5 separate regions of the Homo sapiens genome follow, and regions 2, 3, 4 and 5 are each linked to region 1. Evidence: fine-mapped expression QTL. A gene starts in region 1. Each other region holds a variant in brackets. All regions are shown on one strand. Distances are between the middles of the regions.

Region 1 (5,000 bases):
TCTGCTGTCTACAAACTAGAGAACCAGGAAATCTGGTGGTGGAATTCAATCCAAGTTTGAAGGCCTGAGAACCAGGAGCACTGATGTCCATGGACAGAAGATGAATGTCTCAGCTAAAACAGCAAGTCCACCAGCTGCCTGTTTAAATTCTGTTTAGGCAACAGATTGTACAATGCCCATCCACATTGGTGAGGATGATCTTTACTTAGTCTACCTATTCAAATACTAATCTCTTCCAGGAATACCCTCAAAGACACACCCAGAAATAATGCTTTACCAGCTATCTGAGCATCCCTTAGCTCCGTCAAATTGACAAATAAAATTAACCATCACAGCCGGGCATAATAGCTCGCGCCTGTAATCCCAGCACTTTAGGGGTGAGGTGGGAGGATTGCTAGAGGCCAGAGGCTCGAGACCAGCCTGGGCAACATAGTGAGACCCTGTCTCTACAAAAAAATAAATAAATAACAGTCATAACTTGTGTATCTCCTAACTGATACACAAGCAGACAGCACAGCTTGTATGTAGTCTGTGAGGTGGGGGTATGGCTGGTGTGATTCAGGCACAGCAGTAGTAGAGTGTGAATGTGAAGAGAGAAGCCTACAGAGGTAGCAGGCAGTTATCAGCAATTTGTAGGCCATGATAGGACTTTGGCCTTCAGCTGAAGGAATTAGATGAGGGGGCATTAGTGAGCTATGAGCAGAGGAGTTATAGGATCTGCCTATATTTGAAAAGGATCACTGGCTGCTCTAAAAAGAATGGATTGTAGGGGCAATGGTGAGAAGCATGAGAAGGATCTGAGGCAAGGAGAACAGTTCAAAGGCTGTGGAAAAACCCAGGTGAGAAATGATAGCAGCTTAGACCAAGGTTGTAGTACTTAAGATGGTGGGAAATAGTTGGATTCTGGATATATTCTGAAGGCACAACCAGCAGAATTTCCTGAAGGATTACTTATGGAGGGAGGGGGAGAGAGAGAAAGAGAAAGGGAAAAAGAAGAGGGAAAGAGAAAGAAGGGGTTTGGAAGAGGTCTCAAAGCTGACTCCAAGGTTTTGGTGTGAGAAACCAGAAAGAATGGATTTGCCATTGACTGAGGTGGGAAAGACAGTGAAAGGAGCAGCATTTCTTTGGTGGGGAAAGGGTGGTTAGGAGCCTGCTTTTGGACATTTTAAGTTTGAGATACCTATAAGCTCTCCAGGTGGAGACATTAAGTAGGCAGTTGGATATACTAATCTGATTTCAGAGGAGAGGTGGGCTGAATTTCTTTTTTTATTTTAATCATCAACTTTTTTTTTTTTTTTTTTTTTTTTGAGATAGAGTCTCCCTCTGTCGCCCAGGCTGGAGTGCAGTGGCGCGATCTCTGCTCACTGCAAGCTCCGCCTCCTGGGTTCACGCCATTCTCCTGCCTCAGCCTCCCCAGTAGCTGGGACTACAGGCGCCCACCGCCACGCTCGGCTAATTTTTTTGTATTTTTAGTAGAGACAGGGTTTCACCGTGTTAGCCAGGATGGTCTCGATCTCCTGACCTCGTGATCCACCCGCCTCGGCCTCTCAAAATGCTGGGATTACAGGCATGAGCCACCGCGCCCGGCCTCATTCAACTTAATTTTTAAAAATTAGCCCCTCCATAAGCCCTTCCCCAAAAAATCCCCCTCCCCCCGTGCCAAATAGATGTTGAGCTCCTTGAGATCAAGGATTTTGTTTTATTCGGGCTTCTTTTGGGGAGGTGGGATAGGGTAGATGGATACGTTGGGGGTGGGGATGGGGGAGTACCAAAGACATACCAAAGACCTGGCACTAGTTTAGATACTCAGCGAATGGATATAAACACCTGCTTACGACACCCTCTGGATTGCTAGTCTCCCGAGTCAACCGTACTGCACGTGCAGTTCAGACCCCGCCTGGTCCTCTACAGGTCCCTGTCCCAGGCAAGCCTTAGCCCACAGGTTGAACCTAGTTCTGCCCCTCCAGGCTTGGGCTCTGCCCTCTCGGCCCCGCCCATATCGGACCCTGGCCCCTCCTCTTTCTGGCTCCCCCGGATGCTCCTGGCAAAGACTCGGTCCTTCTGGAATCTTGTAACGGTTCTAACAGCTGGGTGCGGGTGGAGCTGCGGGTGAGTCCTCGGCTCCGGATCCATTTCTCTTTGTTCCCTAGGACCCCCTCCCACAGAGTCCGCCTCCTCTTCCCCGCTCTCCCAGCCCCCTCCTTTGCCTGTTAACGTCTTCCCCTACCTGCATCCTGACCATCATTTGCTGTGCCTGCTCCTCGGCTTTCTGTCTTCACGACCTCCTTAGGCTGTGGGCGAAGACGTCATGGGACTGGGGCTCTGCTGCCTTCGAGTGACGACCTGTTAACCCGTTTTTCAGGCGATCGCCAGCTCGAGTGCAGATTCCTTGCTGTGACCGAGGTTCAGAGTGAGCTCTGTCGGTGTGTCAGTTTGCCTCTTCAGGTGATTGCACGTCTGTGTGCGAGTCTCTCCGTGTATGGGTGGCTATGATTAGGGTGAGCCTCAGACTGGAACTCAAGTCTAAGTTCATTCACTGCTCCAGCAGGCACTCTTCAATGAAACCTCATCAGCAGATCGGGCTCTCTTCCCTTGCCTTGCCTCCTAACCCCCCTAGGCCAGGTGAGGGGGACAGGGTACTGGGAGGTAAGAAGGAACTCTTCTGCAAGGAGGGCTCTCACGTCTGTCTTAGGCCTGCTCCTTACCAGAGTCTTTGGGGAAGCAGTAGGGAGGGCCTGAGGGTCTCAGGAAAGGCTCTCTGCTGGTCTGGCTCTGCTCTGTAGCTCCATCTATTTCCCTGTCCCAGGTCCTTTCTTCCTCCTAACCCCATTGACTCTGACCATCCCCTGCCCAGAGCCTGAGGTCCCTTCTCTGGCCCCTCTGCTGGGCTGGCCCATGCAGGTGAGGCCCCGCATCTGGCATCCTGGAACTGGCAGTTGGAGCCTGAGCTATGGGCAAGGTCACTTCGACAGCAGTTGAATGCCCAGCTCCTCATGGTCCCGGAGGAGAGGAGGGTAGGTTTGTCTTCTGATGAGACATCATCTGATTCCCTTAAGTCTTGGCACTCCATATGTGTCTTGGACAGCAAAGAACAGCCCTTGGCCTGCCAGCAGAAACAGAGGCAGTTCGTGAAGCCAGTGACTGAGTCAGAGCAGCCCACAGTGCTGGAACTCCTGCTAGCTGAGCTCCGAACTCTGTTCTCAGCTGTGTTGCAGGACAGTAGCCCTGCAGCTTGGCGCTATCTTCATGCAGTACTGGGTCTACTGCCTCCATATCGTGAGTTGCTAGTTGGCCACCTTGATTTGCTGCCCTTCCTGGAGCAGCTGTACTGCTGGGCACCCTGGGTCCAAACCCACCTCCATCTGGACCTGCTAGGTGCCATTGTCCAGGCCTTTCCTCCAGACAGCTCTTTGTTAGACAGTGCTTCCCATGCTGACTGCTGTCCCCAGAAGCGGAGGCTCCATCACAGGCCCCCATGCCCAGCTTGCCCTTTTGTGCAGGCCCAGTGGAGCAGGCAGCAAGTAAAGGAGGAGCTGGCCACCTGGCTGCGACCATTGACACTGCCTGAGCTACAGCGCTGCCTGGGCATTGTTGGTGCTCAGGTGGCCCTAGAAGAGGCTGTGTGGCTGGATGGACTTAGTCTCCTTCCCTTGGCACTGGCAGCGGACATCCCTGTACGGTATGAAAGCAGTGACACTGACAATGCAGAGGTGGAGCCTGTTGGAAGAAAAGAGACCAGGTAAGTGAGGGACTCAGTCTAGGGCTTGAGCAGAGGAGAAAAAGTTGCTGTTTTATGGGTGCCTCTGGGGTCACTTGGAAGTTTAGATCCAGCTCTCTGTTTATCACAGGGATTAGCCCAACTCCACACAAAGCTAGTGTGAGGCTACTTTCCTCTTCCTTTTTCTCTGCAAAATAAACCCAGTGGTGTTAGTCTTAATCCCCATAGAGAAATACAGAAATTAATGAAAATCAGAAGTCAGCTATGAGGCAGCCAAAGCTTTAGAATAACAGCTTGACTTTTCAGTTTCCAGGTTTTTTTCTTAGATGATGTCAGAAGTCTCCTTAATTATTTTTCTATAATTCATTCATAATCACTGAACATTGCCTGGGCCTACTGTGAGTTGATTCCTGGATGTTGGGTCTTTCCCTCAAGGTACCCCTGGGGAATGTGTGTCCGAGTGTCCTTCCCACATGTCTATGTGACTTAAACCGGCTCCAAGGCAGAGTGGAGTTGGCAGCACTACTGGATAGAATTTCATTTTGACCCTTCCAGAGTCTTCTTCTTGCCCTGCCAGTGTGGGCACTCTGGCCCCTTGAGTGATATATTTTTCTTTTGTTTCTTTCTTTCTTTCTTTCCTTTTTTGAGATAGAGTCTCACTCTGTCGCCCAGGCTGGAGTGCAACGGCATGGTCTCGGTTCACCGCAACCTCCGCCTCCCGGGTTCAAGTGATTCTCCTGCCTCAGCCTCCTGAGTAGCTGGGACTACAGGCACGTGCCACCATACTCAGCTAATTTTTATATTTTTAGTAGAGACGGAGTTTCACTATGTTGGCCAGGCTGGTCTCGAATTCCTGACCTCATGATCCGCCCACCTCTGCCTCCCAAAGTGCTGGGATTACAGGCGTGAGTCACTGCGCCCGGCCCTATTGTTTTCTTTTTTAAAATATCTGGCTATCAGAGCTCTCTACAGGATTTCAGAATGCTTACAGAGACCTTCTCTTCTCAGCGTTCTCTAACTTTCGATTTTTTTTTTTTTTTCTGAAACAGAGTCTCACTCTGTCGCCCAGGCTAGAGTGCAGTGGCCTGACCTTGGCTCACTGCAACCTCTGCCTCACAGGTTCAAGCGATTCTTTTGCCTCAGCCTCCCGAGTAGCTGGGATTACAGGCTCATGCCACCACGCTCAGCTGATTTTTGTATTTTCAGTAGAGACAGTGTTTCGCCATGTTGACCAGGCTAGGTTTCCAACTCCTGGTCTCAAGTGATCTGCTCACCTCGGCCT
Region 2 (5,106 bases), 38 kb after region 1:
CCCTTCACCAGAGAGATCTGGGTCAGAGAGAGATTTGATCCCTCTGGAGAGATCCCTCAGGAGAGATTGCCCCTGATTCCAGTTGATTACAAGGCTGCAACTGGGTCTGGAGACTTCACTCCAAAAGGTGGGAGTTCCCCTTGGGGATGGGACCAAAGAGGTACATGGGGTTGTGGGGCTGCCGGTCTCATGCTGTAATTCCTGCAGTTGAATGAAGCCAATGAACAGTACGTCGAGCTGGAGGAGCGAATGGAATACGTACGGGCACTCCACGAACTCATCCGCAACCACTTTAGCCTCTTTAGTGCTGAGAATGAAGCACTGGACATCTCGGTGAGAAGGCAATTCGGGGAGTCACCCATCCCTCCCTGCCCTCCTCCCCCACAACCACATCTACTCCACTGCCCTCTGCTTGCCCCACAGCTTCTGGATATGTGGGAGGCATTTCAGTTTGAGAAAAGCCAGGCTTCAGAGTTCCTGCTCAGCAAGCGACATGCCATTATGCCCAAGCTGCAGCAGCTGATGGCAGCAGCATTGGCAGAGCTGGAAGGCCTGCTTGCGAAGGCCCTCTCCGGTCCCTTTATGGACCCCACACAAGATCAGAGGAGTACTGAGCACCAGCTCGTCTCCCTAGAGCGTCAGTTCCAGAACACAGTCAGCGACCTCAGTGAACTGCACCACGCCTATGCCATCTTCACTGGTACTGAGGATCCCTGCACCCTCCATTATCACTCTGTGATAGACCCTTCAACTGAAGTAAGAGTTGGAACTCAGGGTTCTGTGTCCTGTATGACCCCAAGCAAGCCTTGGGAATCACACACCTTCACTGGTGTCTTTTATAAATGAAAATTTCAGGACAAAAACATCATATATTGACCATGGCAGGTGTTGTGCTTAGGGTGGGGGTATGGGGGCTCACAGTCTGGTAAGGAAGGCAAACAAGTGAATGTTCCATCAGAATGTGATGGGGTCAGGGGCTAAAAGCATGTGTGGGAGAAATGTAAGTTCTCCTTATAGAACGTAGCCTTTTTGTAGCCCTGTTCAACACAGTCCTACACCAGGCAGCAGGCCCCGAACAAGAGTAGGTCTTGATGCTCTAGCAGATCACTTCCTCCAGCCAGTGTGGTATAGAGAGGAGGCTACTGAGGGCCTCACTAATACACAGGAGGAGGCCAGGACAGAACTATTGGTCTCAATTCTTTCATACAGTGGTGCAGGTAAGCTGGTTCCCTTCTGTTCTTAAAGAACTCTGTGGGCTCTGGAAGGAGACCAGAGCAAATATAAGAGCCATTACCAAACAATGGAGACAGGATCTCAGGCTAGAGTGCAGTGTCATGATCACAGCTCACTGCAGCCTCAGCCTCCCAGGCTCAAGCAATCCTCCCATCTCAGCCTCCTGAGTAGCTGGGACTACAGGTGTGTGCCACCATGCCTGGCTAATTTTTGTATTTTTTGTAGAGATGAGGACTCACTTTGTTGCTCAGGCTGGTCTTGAACTCCTGGACTCAGGCAGTCCTTCTGCCACAGCCTCCCAAAGCACTGGGATTACAGGTGTAAGCCACTGCGCCTGGCCTTCCTTCCAGAATTCTTATATGTATGTTGGATTTACTGAATCTCTCTCACTCATTGCTTTTATCTTCTTTATCATCAGTCATTCCTTTATTCTTTTTCTCTGAGTTCTGGAAAAATGTTGTGAGCTTGTTTTATAAGCTTCCATTTCCTATGGTATCACTTTGTATTTCTATTGCATTTTAAAACACACATTTTGCATGTGTATGCATGCTTATGTACACATGTATACGCATGTAACTGTGTGTTTATGTGTATATACATGTGCACACATTTGCTATCTCTATCTGCTGAAGAGGACATGAAGCAAAGAAACCCCAGTAGCAAGAAGCCACATTGTGCTCAGGTCTTAGTTTCTAACAAACACCATTCCCCATTAAAAGGAACCAGAGCTCCTTAGAGAAATGGATGATTCCAGGGCTGTGGCAGGGTAGGTACAAGATGAACCTAAAGTGTC[A/G]TTTTATACCAGAAAGTAAGAAAGTATTAAAGTGTTTAAAAAAGTGATGGGAGCATATCACAAGGATTCAGAAGGGATACCAACTGGCTAAATCTGGAACAATTTGATCACCAAAGTAAGTACAATAATAAATTCTAAGCTATTGAAGTAAAGGCATTTATTATGCGTAGTAATAATAAATAGATAATGAGAGAGAAATGAGGACTCATGCTTACAGTAAAATGCCAGGAGCTGACTGGCATAAATGTGGAAGGAAGGCTGGAGTGGGAAAATTATTATTTTGCAACCATCATGGTAATTACCAGATCAGATAAGGATCAACAGATGCCAAATCTAGGGCAAATTTGATGAGGAGCAGAATATTTGCACTGTCTTTGAGAGTTTCTCCCAGAGATCACTTATTTGTTGTAAAAAAAAAGAAAGAAAGAAAAAGAAACAACAATTAGTGGAGAAATCAGACAATAATTTGACCAGGTGATTAAAAATTAACATCACCAATGAAGGACATAGGGACATGATCTGCCTTCAGATGTGATACTGGAGAAGGAAGGATACAATATCACTTATGTAGTAGTCCAGCTGAGAATGAGTATCATTTTTAAAAACCATAAAAACACAACATGAGGAACTTTCTATGAACAAAAAAAATGGCAAAAGGGGACTGTATACTTCAAAGATGTCTGTTACAAAAGAAAGAAAGGCTATGGAAATGTTCCAGATTAAAAGAAACTAAGAGACATGACAAATGCAGTGCTTGACCCTGGACCAGATGCTATAATTGAGGCAAAAAATGCAATCTAGGACATTATTAGGTCAACTGACAAAACTGAAATATGGACAGTAGATTAAAATATTGTATCAATATAATATATGAAATTTGGAATTGCACTGTGGTTATATAAAAGAATATCCCTACTCTTAGGAAATGCATACTTGAGTATTTATGTAACTTGCCCTTAAATAGTTCAGAAAAAAAAATTGTGTGTGTGTATATGTGCATACACATGCCCATGCACAGAGCATGTGAATGCAAATGATAAAGCAAATGGGTAAAATGTCAACAAAAGGCAAAGATAAACAGTATAGATATATATCTATACCTATGGAAGATAGAAGGTACACAATTTTTTTTTACTACTTTTTCCTACAACTTTGAAGATTGGAACTCATTTTCAGATAAAAAGTTTTAAAATGCATGGAAATTATCAAGTAGATATCACAAAATGTCTGTCAAAGGACATTTGCTCTTAATCCCCAGTTTGTCTTTATCTTTTCATGTGTTTGGAGATGATATCTCTGCTCTTTCTTACAGATGAAGTTGTTTATTTGTCTAATATTTGATGTTGAAACAACTGCTGTCAAAGATTGTATGGGACTCTAGCCATATCTTTGAGTTTAGACAAAGACTGGAAGAGTTTAGATTTACTGTCATTTTACTTTTTGTCAGATCAGAGCTTTGATAGCCTAGTGATTCCAGCTTTTTAATACTCTGAGATCTCCAAAATGGATGATGTGCACATGTGTAAGATGCATGAGGCCCAGCATTTGGGTGTGACTCTATCACTTTTTGTCCCACTCAAGAAAGTAAACTGGAGTTCAAGTTAATGAGATATCTGTTGTCTTTTAAGTAAATTGCAAACCTCGATATTATAATTATTGTTAATTATAAATTCCTATTGACACTTATCTCACAACTGACTATAAGTAACTGATTAAGAACTAATGTAGTACCCTGTGAGATGAAGGGGTGGAGGATAATGGCCGGAGGTAAACATGACAGGTCCTCTATGTGGGCCAGATCTTTTTTATATTCATCTTGCTGAACTTTCTTTTGGGCTGACAGTTCATTCGCTCATTCATTCATTCATTCATTCAACACATATTTGTTGAGAGACTGCTGTGTACACTAGGCTTGAGGTACATCAGTGAACAAATGATAAAATGCTTTTCTTAATGGACCCAAACTTCTAGTTGGGAGAGAAAGACAATAAACAATGATGATAACCAAATTCTGTAGTATATAAGAAAGTGATAAGTGATAGAGAAAAAAAAAAAATAGAACAGAGTAAGAGGGGTTGAAAATGCCGGGAAGGGTAGCTAGGAATTTTTAACCAGATAGCCTGCATAGGCCTCATTAAGAAGGTGCTGTCTGGCTAGGCGCAATGGCTCATGCCTATAATCCCAGCACTTTGGGAGGCCGAGGCGGGCGGATCACGAGGTCAGGAGTTCGAGACAAGCCTGGCCAACATAGTGAAACCCTGTCTCTACTAAAAATACAAAAATTAGCCTGACATGGTGGTGTGCGCCTGTATTCCCAGCTACTTGGGAGGCTGAGGCAGGAGAATCACTTGAACCCGGGAGGCAGAGGTTGCAGTGAGCCGAGATCACGCCACTGCACACCAGCCCAGGTAACAGTGCAAGACTCTGTCTCAAAAAAAAAAGAAGATGCTGTTTGTTTGAACAAGGACTTGAAGCTGGTGAGGGCATGAGCCATGTGATTCTCTGAAGGAAGAGTGTTCCAGAAAGAATAGACTGCTAGTCAAAGGCCCTTAGCAGGAGGGTGCATATCTGGTGCATCTCAGCCATAGTAAAGCGTCCAGTGTCACTAGAATGGAGTGAATGAGATGGAGACTAATTAAAGAGGAACTCTTCCCTTTCACTGCCATCACATTTTCCCAGATGGTCTTTCCCTGGAGTAACTGTTCCTTGGATTAACCCCACCTCCATTGTTGAGCCAAACAATTTGGAACTCCACCTCCCCCACCCCCAACCATCACTTTCTGGACCCTACCTTCTGTCATTATGGGCTCTTGACTGATCATTCCACCACCCCCCTCCCAACACTGCAAGTAGCCCAGGTCTCAAGTCAGCCCTCCCCCACAGAGGATGAGACTCCTGTGCCCTTGCCAATCTGTGGGACACGTCCTATTGTGCAGCAGCAGCGCATATGGCACCTGTACCGAGTCATCTCCGAAAACATCAGCGAGTGGAAGTGCATGGCTTTTGCCAAGGTGCTGACACCCTTCCTTGGAGCTCTTGACTGGGAGTGGAGGACTACAGTGGTGGGGGAGGGGAAGAGT
Region 3 (5,128 bases), 31 kb after region 1:
AGCTTGTTTTGAAATAGGCTATAGTTTTGCTCTGGTTTTTGACATGCTTTCATTGTCTCTGGGGATTTATTCTATGCCTCGCTTTGTTTTTTTCTTATAAAAGCTTGGTATGGGGTTTGATGCTGATACTTTTCTACTGCTCATAGAAAACTGGAAATTTTAGCTTTTCTTAACTTTCAAAAGAAGACTTGGTTCAAAATAGTTCTCTAACCTCTAAGTTTCACTTTCTATTGTTTTTCTGTATTAAAAAAAGATGGCTTACTTTCTGAGGTTTTCTGGTTTCCCTCCCCTACCTTCATCTAGACTTTTCCTTTTTCTCTATTGCTGCTCAATCCTTATTCTACTCCCAGCATTTTCTCCATGACGAGCTCTGTCCCAAAAGGGAGCCCTGACTGTTTGGTTTCAAGAGTACACAGGGCATAGATTACTTAAGCTTCTATAGACCTTACCTCACCTGTTCTTGGAGGGGGTAAGACCCCCTTCCAGTTTTACCTGCTGTTCTGAAATGGGCCCTCTGCCTCCCAGTAAATGCTTGATGACTGTTTGGGGGTTTTCTTATTCTTAGGTCCATCTGTTGCTTCATTGTTTCCCTCTGCATCATTCATCACAAATGGTGATGCCATGTGTGTTTTGAGGTTGCAGATGGTTTGACCCCACCTACTTGTATTTTAGGATCTGTGAGGATCCCTTGCCCTCATTTGTTAAAAAATGCTATCCTTGTGTTTTTGGTTTTATTATCTAATTGTTCTGTCATTTTTACGTGGGCATTTGGGGGAGATTTCAAAATGATGCTGCCATTGCCATCATCTTCTCAGAATCCCTTCTGGCATTTTTTTTAAAGGATGATTCTTTTTCTTATATGGAGCAGAGACTGTAAAGTATAGGAGGCAAGGGCCAATGCAGGTAGAAAAGTTAGAAGGCTTTTGCAATAATGCAGTAAGAGATGATGGTGACTTGGGCTGGGGGAGGAGGGCAGGTGGTGGTCAATGTGGTGAGAATTGGTGGATTCTGGATATATTTTTAAAGTAACGACAACAGGATTTTTAAATGGGATGTGTTGTATGTGAAAAAGAGTCAAAGGTGACTATAAAGATTTTGACTGGAGAAACTGGAAGAACAGAGTTTCCATTTACTGAAGTTGGAAGACTGCAGTTTTGGCGGGGAGGAATTAGAGTTCATTTTGGCTCTGTTAAATTTGAGGTGCATGTTAGACATCCAGATAGAGAAGTGAATTAGGCAGTTCTTTAAATGGGATTGGAGTTAAGTGAGAGATCTGGGCTACAGATAAATCTGGGAGCAAATATATGGTACTTACAGCCATAAAGCTGGATGAGATTTCCTAGAGAGTGAGTACAGTTGGAGAAGAGAAGAGATCAGCTAGGAGTACTACAGGGTTTGGGTGTGGATAGTATGGCTCTTATTCTGAACATTTTAATTCTTTCCTTTATTTTGTGCGAAGTTTTAACACAAATACTAAACTTGTCAATTAACCAGTTCCTAAAGAGTTAATGAGTGGCTAGGTTCAAGAATATTCTCTAAGACAGATAACTGAGGACTGGCATGTTCAATATTCATTCCCAGCAACTCCTCTGTTCTGCAGATGCCAGAGACTACAAACTACACTTCCCAGACTCGCCTGCAGCTAGGTGTCATATACAATTTAGGATCCACCAGTTAGATCTACAAAAGACTTTGATTCAGAATTGAATTAAGAGGGGGAAAGAGTCAGGGCGTATGCCATCCGTTCTGTGGATCATAGCAGAGGCAGTGTGTTCTGTAGTTGATGGTGTGACAGTGATATCCCATTTTGCCAGGCAGAACACAGCCCTAGATGCTCAACCTTGAGTGGTTTTGTATTTTAGCTCTCCTATTATTCTGCAACCCATTTAATATTCTGTAATAAGTCCCTCCCTGCTTAGACTAGCTAGAGTAAATTATGTTATTTGCACATGAACCCTAACTAATAAATCCCCTCCATGGGTCTAGTATTTTACGTTTGTGATATAGATGTATGTGTTAACTCACTCATGAGCAGCGAATG[G/GGTGTGT]GTGTGTGTGTGTGTGTGTGTGTGTGTGTGTGTACACACACTGAGGGCAAGGAGAAAGGAAGATTGTTTGTGGGCTCTGGAGGGTACTCACGGACAATTATGGCCTGTGCTCCACTAGAAGAAGATGAAGAGGAGGACTCAAAAGACGAATTTCTGATGCCCAAGTTCCAGGGCCAGCCCAGCGATGCTGTGAGCATCTTCTGTGGCCCGAATGTGGGATTGGTGTGGCCCTGGAAGTCTCACCCAATTGCTGGTATCTTGGAGGTCCGTGGATGTCGGCTGCGGGGCCAATACTTCCCCCACAATTATAAGCAGCTGGAGGAAGACCTGGACAACAACCCTAAGATCCAGCAGGCACTGAATATACAACAGGTGCTGCTGGAGGTGAGAACAGTGGTTTAAGGGATAGGGCGCTGCCCACCAATTCCCATTATAGCCGCATGCCTCTGCCCTAAACACCTTGTCTGCCCTTAGGGCGTGCTGTGCAAGGTGCAGGAATTCTGCAGGGAACATCATTGGATAACAGGCATTTATGAATTCCTGCAATCCTGGGGGCCTCAGAAGCTGGAAGACATGAGAGGTGGTCCCATCAAGAACTACGTGACGCTGGTGAGCCGCCTGAATGTTTGGCAGGCCCGTGTCTCCAGTATGCCTATCGAGTTGCTCACAAAAGGCGGGTTGCTGCTACTTAGCTGCCATGATGTACAGGCAGAGATGGGTGAGTACTGCTTCTCTTCCCTCTCCTCCTTCCCTTTTCTGTATGTCTATTCACATGGCCTGCCTTGGTCCTGGAATGTCCTCCGGAGACCTTCGGTGCAGGCCTCTTATTGGACCTATGAAGCCTTCCAAAGCCCGAGGTCCCAGGCCCTTTCCTTTGCCATCAAAGCTATGCTCACTGCAAAGGCCGGCCTCTCTGTTTTGGCTCTGCTCATACCCTGTATTCCTTAGGAATCATGTTCCTGTGCTTGGGCTACTAAGCTCAGTGTCTTTACAGAGATTCTTGGGAATCTAGGGTGCTTTCTCTCTGCATGTAGCTGAGTGAAATTTATACTACGATTTGCATATGTAAAAAGCTACTCTCTAACTGAGCTTGTCTTACTCTGTAGTCCTAACTTCTACTGGTAGTGAAAGAATGTAACCTTTCCAATTAAAGAAAGCTCCTTTCATTTAAAGCAGTCACTTTTGGTCTGATTCAGTCTATTTGGGATATCTGGGCAATTGAAAATTTATACTGTAGTTCTGGGTTGTTTTTACTTTCAAATGTCTTTTCCTCCCTTTTCCTTCCCAAGGTGCCACCTGTACTGGGGAAGGCCGGTGGGCTGGCTTCTGAGGTGTGATACATCCTTGCCTGGTCTCTGCCCTCCTGACATTGCTGCTTCTGGTGCTGCTGTGTCCTGGGCTGGTAGAGCTGCGATGTGTTTTCTTGGACTAATAGGGACCTGGAGTGTCTGTCTTTGCTGACCTGTCCTTGTCTTAACATTTGCTGGCATAGCTGATCCTTGGGGTTTTAGTGAATCCTTCATCCAGTCTCTGTCTTAGGCTGGCTACCCCCATGGCTTTTGCTTCAGGGTCCCTAGCCCCTCAACACAGGAACTTCATCTAGGCCACTGGCTATCAATTCTCTGCTATCATCTATATCCCCTGCCATTTGGGAGTTGTGGGAAACTGGTAAGCATTATATCCGCCCCTCTTTTTACTACAACACATAACAGTATGATTTCTACTCTGCTGTGACTGTTTCATGTTAGCAAGGGACACCCTAAAAGGTGGTCTTTCCCAAAGTTCTATGTGGAAAGTGGGGCTCAAGACCATTCTACTACCTATTTTCTCCTCAACCCATCTCAGGTTCCCTCCTCTTGCCACTTCTACCCCTGCTAATTGAACGCCCAATTGTTGCTATCCCTGGGTCTCTGAGAAATCTGGCTTATGACCTAGTCTTTTACCCTCTTTTCTTTCTTCCTTCCCATGGGAAGGATATCTCATGCTATTGTGTACTAGCTAGTGCCTCAGCCTAGGAGTTCGCCACAGAGAGGCTCACAGCGGGGTAGATTTGGAAGCCAGTGATTTGTTCTTTTAGGAAATATGGAGGTTGTTCTCTTTCCTCACCTAGCCTCAAGGATGGCAATAGCCAATAGTATCTACTTCCTGTGAAGACTAGATCCTGTTGGACCCGTGGCTTCCCAGGCCTGCTTTCTTTATGAAGGTTAGAAGCCACTGGGGCCTGGAAAGAGTTTGCTTGTATGCCCTGCTTGCTTCGCCTTCCCTGTCTTGGCTCTCAACAGATGAAAGCACATGTATCATTAGGTATCCAGTGGGCCACTAAAACTCCCTCCTCTTGTACAGGGGGTTCAGGCGGGCAAGGCAGGAACCGGGAGGACGTTTGATTGTTTTGTCTTCTCTCTGGCCGTGTTTTGGTCAGGCTTTACTTCACTGCTGCTGAGAAAGCTTATTGTTGTTCTAGTTTGTTAGCTTCCTGATCCTCAATCCAGGACCAACTAGTCTCTTTAAGAGGAGCAGGTGGAGAGAAATGAGCACTGGATTTAGAACCCTGTCTGTTTTTCACTTGCTTTGTAACTTCAGATTACTGTGTTTTAGTTTCTTTATTTGTAAGCTGGGCATGATAACACAGTCACTCACAGGGTTATAGTAAGGATGACTAAGATATTATTTGCAATACTCTTAGCATTGAGTGTGGCATGCAGTAGGTGCTTAATATTTTTTTCATTTCACCTTATCCCCTTGTATCTACTCTCATCCTTCTTGCTGATCTAATTTTATCTAACCCTCTGACTTAACTCTGTCGTTTCTCTTCTTCCTGAACTCCCTTGAACAACAAATGGCGTAATTATACACTCTGACGAATTAGCTTCACCAGAAACTTGGGGTCACCCTTTACTCCTCCCTCTCCTTGACCTTACTACATCCAACCTGTCTCCAAATCCTTGTCATTCTTCTGCCCCCTAAGTATCTCTTAAATCTGTTTTTATCCATCTCCAGCTTCTAATCCCAAGGAGTCCTGGTATTTTATCAATGCATTGCTCCTTTATACCATACGGTGTCACTGTTGAGCTCCCATCTGCCTTCATC
Region 4 (5,128 bases), 21 kb before region 1:
TGCTACTGCTGCCAGCGCCCGTCCGCCCGGCCCTGCCCGCGCCTCCGCCTGTCCCCGCGCCGGCGCCGCCGCCGGACTAGCCGCACAGGCCGGAGGGAGGGGCCGGGGCGGGGCTGCGGACCGGCCGGGGGAGGGGGTGACTCCAGTAGGGAAGACCCACCCACGCCCCGCCCGCCGCCGCGGAGGCCCCGCCCACCCCGCCTGCCCACCCCTACCGCACCCGCACGCCCCCCCGCCAACGCCTCCACCTCCTGCGGACGCTGCCTCCTTGGTGCTGCTAGGGAGCCGGCGGGCCGGCGAGCCGGATCCCGGATCTCGGATCCCGGATCTCCGCCAGCTGCCTCCGGCTCCGGGAAGGGCGGTGTAGTCGGTCTCAGGGATTGAGATGAGACTCCGTCAAGAAAAGGCAGCTGGGGCAGCAGGGATTTCGGACTCTGGGAGCCTGTCTGGGCCGCCTGCCTCCTGGAGGCGCCCTTTCCGGCTTCCTTGGAGTGCTCCTATGGAATATGCTAGTCTATCGGCTGACCAGGAAGACGTAGAAACCGTCTGTACCTCAGCACGATCTCTGGGCGGCAGAAGGGCAGTACCCAGAACTCTGGGAGAAGGAGTTAAGGGGTAGAAAGGTGGGGGATTTGATTAGGCTTTGGGCGCTTCAGGAGCCCCCTCCTGAGGAAATTCTGGTTCAGACCATCCAGCGACTCCCTTCCTCACACCAAAGACACTGGACAATTCTCAGAATCATCGCCTTGTGCAAAAAGCAGCCCCAAGTGGAAAATAATTGTAACAGTTTACAGGGACTGAGTGGTTATTATGTGCCGACACAGAACTAGCCACTTTACATATATTATTTAATAGTCAGTAGGTAGCATCTTTTATTAGCCCAATTTTACAATGGGAAAAAATAGGGATCTTGCTCCCCAGACGTTAGCCCTCATCACTCAGCTAGAAAGTGGCAGAACCTGGAGTTGAGCCCTGTTTTTAGGCCCTACAACCAGCATTTGGAGACTCGGTACCTTTCATGTTGAAAAATCCCCAGTGGCCCATTAAGTGGCAGCTCATATAAGGACCACCTTCCCTGCCCCAAAAATCAAGCTCTAGTCAGATGATTGCAGGCTGATCAAAGCCCAGAAGACTGTCTGGGAGCTGCAGTATCCATGACAAAGGGCAAAGTCATGCCTGTGAGGATCCCTGCACTATGGGAATCTGCTGAGTGGGTCTTCCCCTTCCTCCAGCCTTCCAGAGGTGGGGAAAATCCTGAAAAATTCTGGTTTCCTTGGCCAAAGGGCATACAGGTGATGACACCTAGCCCTGACTAAACCAAAGTGCTGTTAGGGATCTTTCTTGTGACCTCTCCACAAGGTTCAGATTTAGGCTCAACACCTGGGTGCAGCAGGAGCTTTGGGAACCGCCTCAACCTCTTATCCACCTGAGTTCAGCACATAGCACAAGATGCTCCAGTGCTTGTGAAGGAAACCCAGACGGGGATCATGCTTGCAGTTTTGGGCTGGGGCTACTATGCTACCCAAGATGAGGGAACTGGAGTCTAGATGACACTATCTTAAGCCTCAGAGGACTACTTTTCTCAACTCTATACTTCTCCCATGCAGTCAAATTTCTGCTTAAAACACTTCTCAGCTCCTTCTCCAGAGGGCAAAAGTCCTTAACCAGCCTGCAGTCTTCATCTAGCCACTCCCTCTTCATTTTTCATTCCAAGCAATTCCTCCCAGTTCCTACTCAGAGCCTTCATTATATGCTAGCCTCTCTGCCTGGGATGCTCTTCCCTTTACCCTGCCTGTTTGTCATCTACTCACCCTTCAGGTCTCAGCTTTTTTTTTTTTTTTTTTGAGATGGAGTCCCGCTCTGTTGCCCAGGCTGGAGTGCAGTGGCGCAATCTTGGCTCCACTGCAAGCTCCGCCTCCCGGGTTCACACCATTCTCCTGCCTCAGCCTCCCGAGTAGCTGGGACTACAGGACTACAGGCGCCAGCCACCGTGCCGGGCTAATTTTCTTGCATTTTTAGTAGAGATGGGTTTTCACCGTGTTAGCCAGGATGGTCTTGATCTCCTGACCTGGTGATCCGCCCGCCTCGGCCTCCCAAAGTGCTGGGATTACAGGAGTGAGCCACCGCACCTGGCCAGGTCTCAGCTTTCAAACTGACATCCCCATTTCCACCCCAGTCCATGCCAGATGCCCCTCCTTTGTGCTCCCACAGCGCCCTCTGTACTTCTGTATCCTAATACTTATCACTGTTTTGTAGTTGCCTGGTTACTTCTTTCCCTCAGTAGGCCCTAAGCACTGTGGGCAGGGACCGTGTTTTATTCACTGATGTTTCCCCAGGGCCTAACGCAGTCCCTGGCAAATGAAAGCACTCAGTAAATATTTGCTGTATGAATGAATGCATGATGAAGGTCAGCAAACCCAACCCCCTCTGGATCTGGTGCTCTTAAGATCCATAGCTATCTTGGTGCTGGCTAAAGGACAAAGCTTTGGCTCCAACTGAGGCTGGGAGAGAAGACTGGGCCTTCAAACCATCTCTGAAACCTGTGACTTCAGCTGCCTGGCCCCAGCTCTTTTGACTTGATAGGGTTCTGGTGTTTGATTAGACTGAGCTTGTCTCCACCCAGGCCACCCTCCTAGAGTCCCCGACAAATTGACCTCGCTGGGCCTGCTTTTATGAAAGGTTTATTCCTAGTGCTAGATCCCAATCTTCTTGGGCTCTAAGCACAATTAAACTGGGTGGGTGGGTGAGGGTAGGCCTATTCAGATGCAAGGCCAGCAATGGGGCTCCCCATTATCCCCACCCCTTTGGTCCCAGTCCCCTTCTCTGCAATGGGCACGCATAGAGGAGAGACAAAGGGTATTAGACGCAACATCATTGGCCCAGGGGAGTCCGAGAAGAGCTGCCATTGGCTGACAGGGCATTTTCAGGCTCTGTCATTGGTCAGGGAGCACACCCCAGCCTGAAGAGTGATGCCATTGGCCAGGGAGTGGTTTTGTCATAGCCGTTGGCTGTGAAGTGGAAGGAAAAGATCTGGGAATGAAGCCCTGTGGCCAGGAAGATAGACAGGGCAGCAACTTCTGGGCCTCCAGG[C/T]CCTCTTCCCACCATAGCAATGTGGGCAAAACTGGTGTCAGGCCCCAGCCAGAAAAAGGAGCCCAAGCCAGAGGGCAAGTGACAAAGGATGTACCATGTCCAATCTCCCACACCCTGGGGCTGCCCTTCCCAATGTCTTTCTTGATAGCCAAGTTGGGCTGGGAGCAGCTCACTGCTCCTCTAGCCAGGAGGGTTTCTCAGCTCCTGGAGGCCGCAGCTTGATGTTGAACTGCTGCAGGGTCTGCTCCAGCTGTTTCTGGTTCCCAGCAAAGTAGGCGGACACAGCATTGTGGAAGAGCAGCAGCTGCTTGTGCATCACCTTGATCTGGGGGTCCAGCAGGGTCAGCTAAGGCTGGACTCAGGCGCCCTTCTTGAGGGTCTATGAGCCTGAGCCCAGGCACAGACCAGGGGCACAAGGACTCTGCTCTGATGGTGCTTTTGGGGTAGGGGCTGAACTCTACCCAGGGAGTCAAAGGAGAAGGGTCAGTATGATGGAAGAAACCTCACTGGATTTGTGGGCCTAGGGTTTTTGTACCCCAGCTCAGGGGGTGATTTTTCCCAGTTATGTTCCTGGGACCAGCAGCCAAATCCTCCAACAGGAAAGGGCCAGGAATTGGAGGGAGGGTGATCTGGAAAGGCCCAGGGGTTGAGGGGGTGAACACTCTACTCCCCAGCTAGGCTGCATTTCCTCATTCAATAATGGGGAGGGTCTGAGGGGAAGGTTAGTGTTACAGATGGAAAGGTGGGCTAGGGTCAAGGGGGTGGGGTTGGCACCTTGTTTTCTTCCAGGAACTTGAGCTTGATGGCCACATCTCCCCGCAGCTTCTCATACTTGTCCCGATGGGCCTGGAAAGTGGCCTGGGCACTCTCAAGTCGACCACGTGTCCCTGCATCCCGGGGGCCTAGACTCAGCTCCTCTAAGTCTGTTCGGTAGGCATCATATTCCAGCCTGGGGAGGGGGTGATAAAGGCTGGTCTCCACTCCTTTATCCTCAACACATACTCTCCTTTCCTTCCTGAATTCTTATGCCCCTAATGCCCAAATTTCCACCCATACCAGCCAACTCCCCAAACCCTAAGCCCTGCCAGTGCCCACACCTGGCAGCCTCATACTGTTTCACAGTCATGAGCGTGTCTTCCATGGTCTTGGTGACCAATGTGTTGATGCTAGAGACAAAGAAGTTCACGGCTCCTAGCAGCGTTTCCCCATTCTTGCATAGTAGTTTCTGTGTCTCTGCATTGTAGCCAAATTCCTCCTGAGGGCAGAAGGGAGGAACAGACCTTGAATAACACTCCCTACCTGACTGAAGCTGTAGAGCCCTTCATTCCCCTCCTCCCCGGGGAGGACACAGCCAGCAAAACTGGAACAACCAAGGACTGCCTCCAGCAAGGCTCTCTTAGCCGGAAAGTTAGTGGGATCACCCTGGGGATACCTGGGGTAGGAATGTGGGTGGTGGGCATTCTTGGGTAAGTTCACAAGACTGGAACAGTCTGAGAGCTAGTGTGGCAAGCAGGGGAGGGGCTCTGATTAGGCTGAGCACGAAGGCATTCTCCCCAGTGCAGAGAGGGGTTATTTGTGAGGCACCTAGTGTGCCCCCTCCCCCACCCCCTCCAACTTCTGGACCTCTGTACAAACCCTTAGGCTGCCTCCACAGGTGAGTGCTGCTGGGGGTAGGGCTGGGCCCACCCTGAAGGGGTTCTCCCTGTGGGCTGCAGGAGGGAGGGAGGATGAGGAATGACTGCCTGGGAGGGCCCATGCCCAGTTCCCCCACCCTCTTTGGTCTGGGTGAGGCACCTGAAGCTCTGGGGACTTCTGGCTGAGGTCAGCAAAGGCATCACCCAGTGCATGCTGGGTCTGCAGCAGGCTGTAGAGGTGGGCTGTCAGTGCCCGGCCCAGCTGCAGGACACTCTCATACTTGCGCTTCGTCTCACGCAGCAACTCAATCTGCAGCTCTAGCTCCAGGTCCACAGTCCGTGAGCCTCGACCAAATCGTTCTGATAACAGTTGCTTTGTGCACTGATTGGGAAATGGGGGAATA
Region 5 (5,128 bases), 93 kb before region 1:
CAAGCCCTATTCCCACCTTCCACTGTCCCGCCCGACGCCCCACACGCGGATGCTGATGATGGGTTGGGCGTGCAGCAGTGCCTGGCTCTGTGGCTCCACTAGCTTTAGTGTCTCATCCTCCAGCTGCAGTAGCAGATCCTTTCCCTGCAGGACCAGAAGCAGGCACTCAGTGGGACTCCAGCCAGGATGGTGGCTGATCTCTGACCCCTGCAGCTCAGGGGATGTTAGCCACAGCTCTGGGGCCCCTGCTTTGGTGTCAGACCGCCCGCCCTGCAGGCCTCACTCTAGTGGAGGTCACGTGTCATCTCTCACATTGACTCCACCGTTGTTAGGCGACTATCTCCCAAGGTCCTGGCCTGGGGTCGCTCATCCATCCCACAGGGCTGCCACTTAGGATGGGCCAATATCCCCCTTCCCCAGCCTGCTTGTGGGCAGGTCAGACCTCCCATCTCTCATAATTCCCTTCACACTCTCACAGTACCACCCCCTACCCCCGGCTCAGGTCCTTACTTCCCCCCAGCCCCCAGACATGGGGTCATGCAGGTTGTTTTTGTGGTAAGAGAGCTGACGGATGCAATTGTTGACTGCCACACTGCTGCGTCCAGGGGCCAGCTCCTCCTCGGTCATCTCTACCCAGCCTAGGGAGCGCACGGCGAAACACTGCCAGACACAGAAGAGGGGCAGGAGGTAGAGGATCTGAGTCAAAACTGGAGAGTTCCTGACTACAGAGTGTGGCAGGAGGCAGGGTGTTCTGAACTAAGACGGAGAAGCTCCCCAAACAGGATGTGGTTAGGGAGAGGGGGATGTGGTTAGGGTGAGGGAGATGTCAGATGAGACCCCAGCTAGTACAAAAAAGCACCTGAACTAAGACTACAAGGGCCCCCAACCTGGCTGTTGGGCTGGTTGATTTAAAAACTGAAGTGCCTCCAGCTCAGACACAGGGCTCTGTGCTGAGACTGGAAGAACTCCTAACTCAGGACCTGGGGAACTGCGCTGAGACCCCTCAGAGCACAACATTAGGGGCTGTCTGACAAATAAGAGGGCCCCAGACTCAGAATGGGTGTCAGTCTTGAACAAACCTTGATCCCTGGGTTGGTATTCCGTGGGGGAAGCTTCTCCTCCTCTTGGGGCAACGGCTCTGGGCTGAAGGCAGATGGTAATACTTGGCACAGGGCTCCCATAAATGGAGCTGTCCCAAGGCCCCTTCCAGACAGATCCATCCCACTGCCAGCTCACTGCATCTGGCAGCTCACCTGAGGCTCTGAGCTGGGAAGGTCAACGTCCCCTCCTCAGGTTCCTTCAGTCCCAGCTCCATTGGGGCCTCATCACTGGGTTCATCCTTGGGAAGGGGATTGAGGAATCAGTATCAAAATGATGCCCCTCCTCCAGCTATCCCGTGGTAAAGCAGGTCCCCTTACCCACCTTCCAAAATTCTCCATCCTCAAAGCCTTCTCCATGAGCAAAACCTGTCCAGGTGAGCTAGGAGGAGGGATGGGAGTAGTGAGTGAGTGTCCTATCCTACTCCAGCAGCACACACTCCCTCCACCCCTGGCCCAAAATCAACAGGCCTGTGAGCCTCACCTGGGACTCCTCTTGGGGGCTGCTCCCCTGTGAGGGGGAGGCCCGGCCGGGGGGTTCCCACTGGGTGGTCCCTGTTGGGATGTGCCAGTAATAGGTCCCTGAGGTGTCCTGGACCCTCATCCATCCAGCCGGCAGGTCGGAATCCGTCTCGAAGGCGTTGGGGTTCCAGAAGGAATCTGCCAGGTGGGAGGCTTGGTGAGGGTCAGCCTACCCAAAGAGCAGACAGCTGGTGCCTATGCCCGGTCCCCTCTGAGACCCCATGGTTGAGAAGGGGTGGTGGAAGAGCTATACCACAACACAGTTCCTGCTTCTGCCTAGAGCCTATAGTCTGGAGTCACCACATGTGGGGCCACCAGTAGGGGACATGGCTCAGGTCTCCTCCTGGGCCCTGTTGGTGGCTAATGTGGCCACACTGTGGAAAGGAGGAAGGCAGGGAGGGAAGAAGGAAGGGAGCAATGAATGTTGGGTGACCCCAATTAACCTCCTTTCATAC[A/G]TATCTATTATCTCAGTTAACACGAAGGTGAACACTTTCTAGCTCCTGCACACGTACATGTATACACAGACACACAACACATACAAGCCCTACCACACACCTGTGCAGCCACAAACACCAGGGTATGCAACACAGAAAATGCCAGCACAGATGGCAGGTATCACACACAGGTGCACATGTATGTGCAGGGGCACACACACACAAACTTTAGCCATACACTTATGCAGACACCACAGAGGTGTGTGTGCATGCAGCTAAACATACGAGCCCCTGCCACACAGGTGTGCAGATACCACACCACAATGGCCCCAACACACGTGTGGGTACCACACACACAGGCGGACCCACACTCAGACACACGGCACACGTCAAACCCTGCCAAATGTGTGCAGACACCACAGACGCTCACTTCCTGACCCTTGCTGCACACAGATGCAAGCAAACATGTCATGCACATACACACATACCTCGCATCTGTGTCATACACCCTTGTCTGCCGGCAGAGCCACACCACTCCAACCCTGTAACCCGCTCATGCGTCCTCTAACTCTTCTCTCCCTGTCAGCCCCACCCCACATGAGGCCCAACCTCATGCTGCCCCTCACCTGCGCTGCTGTCCTGCAGGATAATGGCCAGGAAAAAGTCCTGGGAGAACATGGCGCTCATTCCCGGCCCCTCCTGCCTCCACCCTCCCTCCTCACAGCCCCTCCAGCCCAGCCAGCTGGGCTCACAGCCTGGTGCTGGGCTGCAGAGAAAAGCTCATCCCGCCCCCTTCTCACCAGGGCAGAGCGTCTGCCAGGCAAGATCCTCCCCCGCTTGGAGCTTGCTAGGGAGGGGCCAGGACCACCATGCTAGGGAATCTCCTTGGGGGGTGGGGAAGGGAGGAGAAAGGGAGGTTCATGAGACCCCAGCCCCTTCTGCTCACACCTCTTCTTCCTCGCCCTGGCTCCCCTCCCCCAATCCTGAATCTCCATCCCACCCTCCAGTGGTTACCTCAGTGCCTAAGCCAAGCCCAGTCTTAGGGATACCAGGAGACTCAGCCCCTAAGGAATACCCCAGCTGCCTGGGGCCCTGCAGAGCCTATAGCTGTCAGCATAAATAGGGTGTGGTTTCAAGGCCTTCAGGGATCCCGCCCCTGTCCAGGACCTGCACAGCAGTTTGAACCCAAGGGTGGGCTTTGAGGTCCTGAGCCCCAGCAAGCTTGAGGCTGGGCTTGGGGCTTCCCAGCACCACCCCCCACCCCTCACCTGCCAGGGCCCAGCTAGGCTGCAGCGTCTCCTCGGCAACCGCAGCACCAGGACCGGCTGGGAGCGCCCAGACTGCTGACGTGCTTCCCGTTACCAGGGAAACCAGGAATCCTGACTGGTCCAAGAGGCAGTACTAAGGGACAGGCAGTCCCAAGACCCTGCTGCTGGGCAACCAGACACAGCAGGGCTGGGAGTGGGCGTGGTTACGCCAAGGTGGCTGCACACCTGACGAGAGTTATTCAGGCAGGGTGCTTCACCATCCTCAGCTTCCAAATGACGTGGGCCCACAGACACCCAAAGAGGAGGGGCTCTTGCCCATCCACCTTCTAGGCAGCCATCACCGCCTCTCCTCACCCCCACTTCCCCCTAACTCACACTCTATGGAATAAGGTTTTCAATAGGCACCTGAAACTTAGCTGAGGCTCAGGGAATACCTGCTGTTCCCTAGAGACCCTCCATTGCCTCAGGACTCTCCTGCTAAAACCTTCCAGGAACAGCACCCTAGGGCCTCCATGCCCTCCACAGCCACAGCCTGCTTCATGAGGGCTGGCTGGACACTTCTGGAATCTGGGGACCAGTTCACCATCTCCTGACTGAGTCACACACACCAATCCATCTGCCATCCCTGTCAGCCTGTACCTTCCTGCTTCAAAGAGCTTCATCCTTCCGATCTGTCCTGGAAGGGCAGTTTCTCCCCCCTTGGCCATCTGGGAGGCCCTTCTGGAGCTTGGCACATCTCCCTCCAAGCGCAGCCCACCCCGGCCTTTGCTTTCACACACATGCATTTATTCCAGAACGCACACCTTCACTCCTGCATCGATTCATGCGACACTTACATATAAAATACATTAAATGTTCACGTATCATTCCTTCCTTCCTTCATTCGTTCATCCACAAATGCCTTAGTGGTGAAGCCAGGTGTACTCACTTGCTCAGGAATCAGTGATTGACTTAAAGCTTTCCCCTTCTCTCCACCCCACATAACTAACATAGCCCAGGCTACTAGCTTTTTTTTTTTTAACCTGCATCATTGCAAAAACATCATAACTGGTCTTTCTCTTCCTATCTGGTCTCCTCCAATCTCAGCTGCACAGTACAGCCCAAATGATTCTTCTGAGATGCTAAACTAATCAAGTAATTTTCCAACGGAATCCTCTTAATTGTTTTGTCACTGCCCTCAGGATAAAGTCCAAATTCCTCCCCAGGTTTTATGTGCTGTCATGAACCCCTGTCTGCCTCTCAGCCTTACCTCCAGCCACTCCCCTTCTCTCTCTTTGCTTGGGACATGCCCCCTTGTCCTCTCCCAGCCCACCTCCCTTACTCTCGATTTTCACCTGGCTATCACCTACCTCTCCTTCAGACATCAGTATACAGGTCCCTTCTTAAAACTGACCCATTGCCCTCTCCCCCACCACTCTCACAGGCAGGGTCAGGGGCCCCTCCTGTACTTCCCCAGCCCCAGAGAGCTCATCGCACTGATCATAACCACTTGTTTCTTTCTTTGTCTCCTCACCAGGCTGTGAAGGCCAGGAGGTAAGAACATCTTTGCCCCATAGTATACATTTCCAGCATTTACGATAAGGCCTGGAGCAGAGTATGAATTCAATACAGGTAGTAAAGTTTATTCATTCATCATTCATTTAATTCATGAATTCATGCATTTATGCATTCAATCCATAGCTCTATGAATATCCTACAATAGGAAGGAGAATATAATTTTTGCTCAATTCTAGCCTCATTTCTGCAGGAGCACAAACCTTCTCTGCAGCCCTCATGGTCATAGCAACACAGTTGTAAAAGAGTGACT

The links.
Region 2: its variant is fine-mapped to the expression of DNHD1 in whole blood (TOPMed, PIP 0.98).
Region 3: its variant is fine-mapped to the expression of DNHD1 in whole blood (INTERVAL, PIP above 0.99).
Region 4: its variant is fine-mapped to the expression of DNHD1 in whole blood (TOPMed, PIP 0.96).
Region 5: its variant is fine-mapped to the expression of DNHD1 in whole blood (TOPMed, PIP 0.95).

What each region holds. Positions count from the first base shown.
Region 1 is chr11:6,495,223-6,500,222 of GRCh38, forward strand. It overlaps DNHD1 (dynein heavy chain domain 1), which reads left to right and starts at 2,058. Exons shown (of 43, transcript NM_144666.3): 1 at 2,058-2,109; 2 at 2,363-2,445; 3 at 2,549-3,739. The coding sequence starts at 2,994.
Region 2 is chr11:6,533,474-6,538,579 of GRCh38, forward strand. It overlaps DNHD1 (dynein heavy chain domain 1), which reads left to right. Exons shown (of 43, transcript NM_144666.3): 14 at 208-700; 15 at 4,910-5,037. Among named protein-coding and RNA genes, the nearest start is that of DNHD1, 39 kb to the left of the region's middle. The variant A/G (reference allele first, on the strand shown) is at 2,027.
Region 3 is chr11:6,526,363-6,531,490 of GRCh38, forward strand. DNHD1 (dynein heavy chain domain 1) reads left to right here. Exons shown (of 43, transcript NM_144666.3): 11 at 2,160-2,425; 12 at 2,516-2,759. Among named protein-coding and RNA genes, the nearest start is that of DNHD1, 32 kb to the left of the region's middle. The variant G/GGTGTGT (reference allele first, on the strand shown) is at 2,042.
Region 4 is chr11:6,473,854-6,478,981 of GRCh38, forward strand. It overlaps TRIM3 (tripartite motif containing 3), which reads right to left and starts at 88. Exons shown (of 12, transcript NM_033278.4): 1 at 1-88. ARFIP2 (ARF interacting protein 2) reads right to left here. Exons shown (of 8, transcript NM_001376558.2): 5 at 4,885-5,106; 6 at 4,188-4,345; 7 at 3,865-4,039; 8 at 2,666-3,415. The coding sequence ends at 3,260. RefSeq lists an enhancer at 1-627 and a silencer at 1-214. The variant C/T (reference allele first, on the strand shown) is at 3,091.
Region 5 is chr11:6,402,066-6,407,193 of GRCh38, forward strand. APBB1 (amyloid beta precursor protein binding family B member 1) reads right to left here. Exons shown (of 15, transcript NM_001164.5): 3 at 1,582-1,757; 4 at 1,423-1,479; 5 at 1,254-1,339; 6 at 1,080-1,143; 7 at 511-660; 8 at 17-144. Among named protein-coding and RNA genes, the nearest start is that of SMPD1, 14 kb to the left of the region's middle. RefSeq lists a silencer at 3,254-3,548. The variant A/G (reference allele first, on the strand shown) is at 2,075.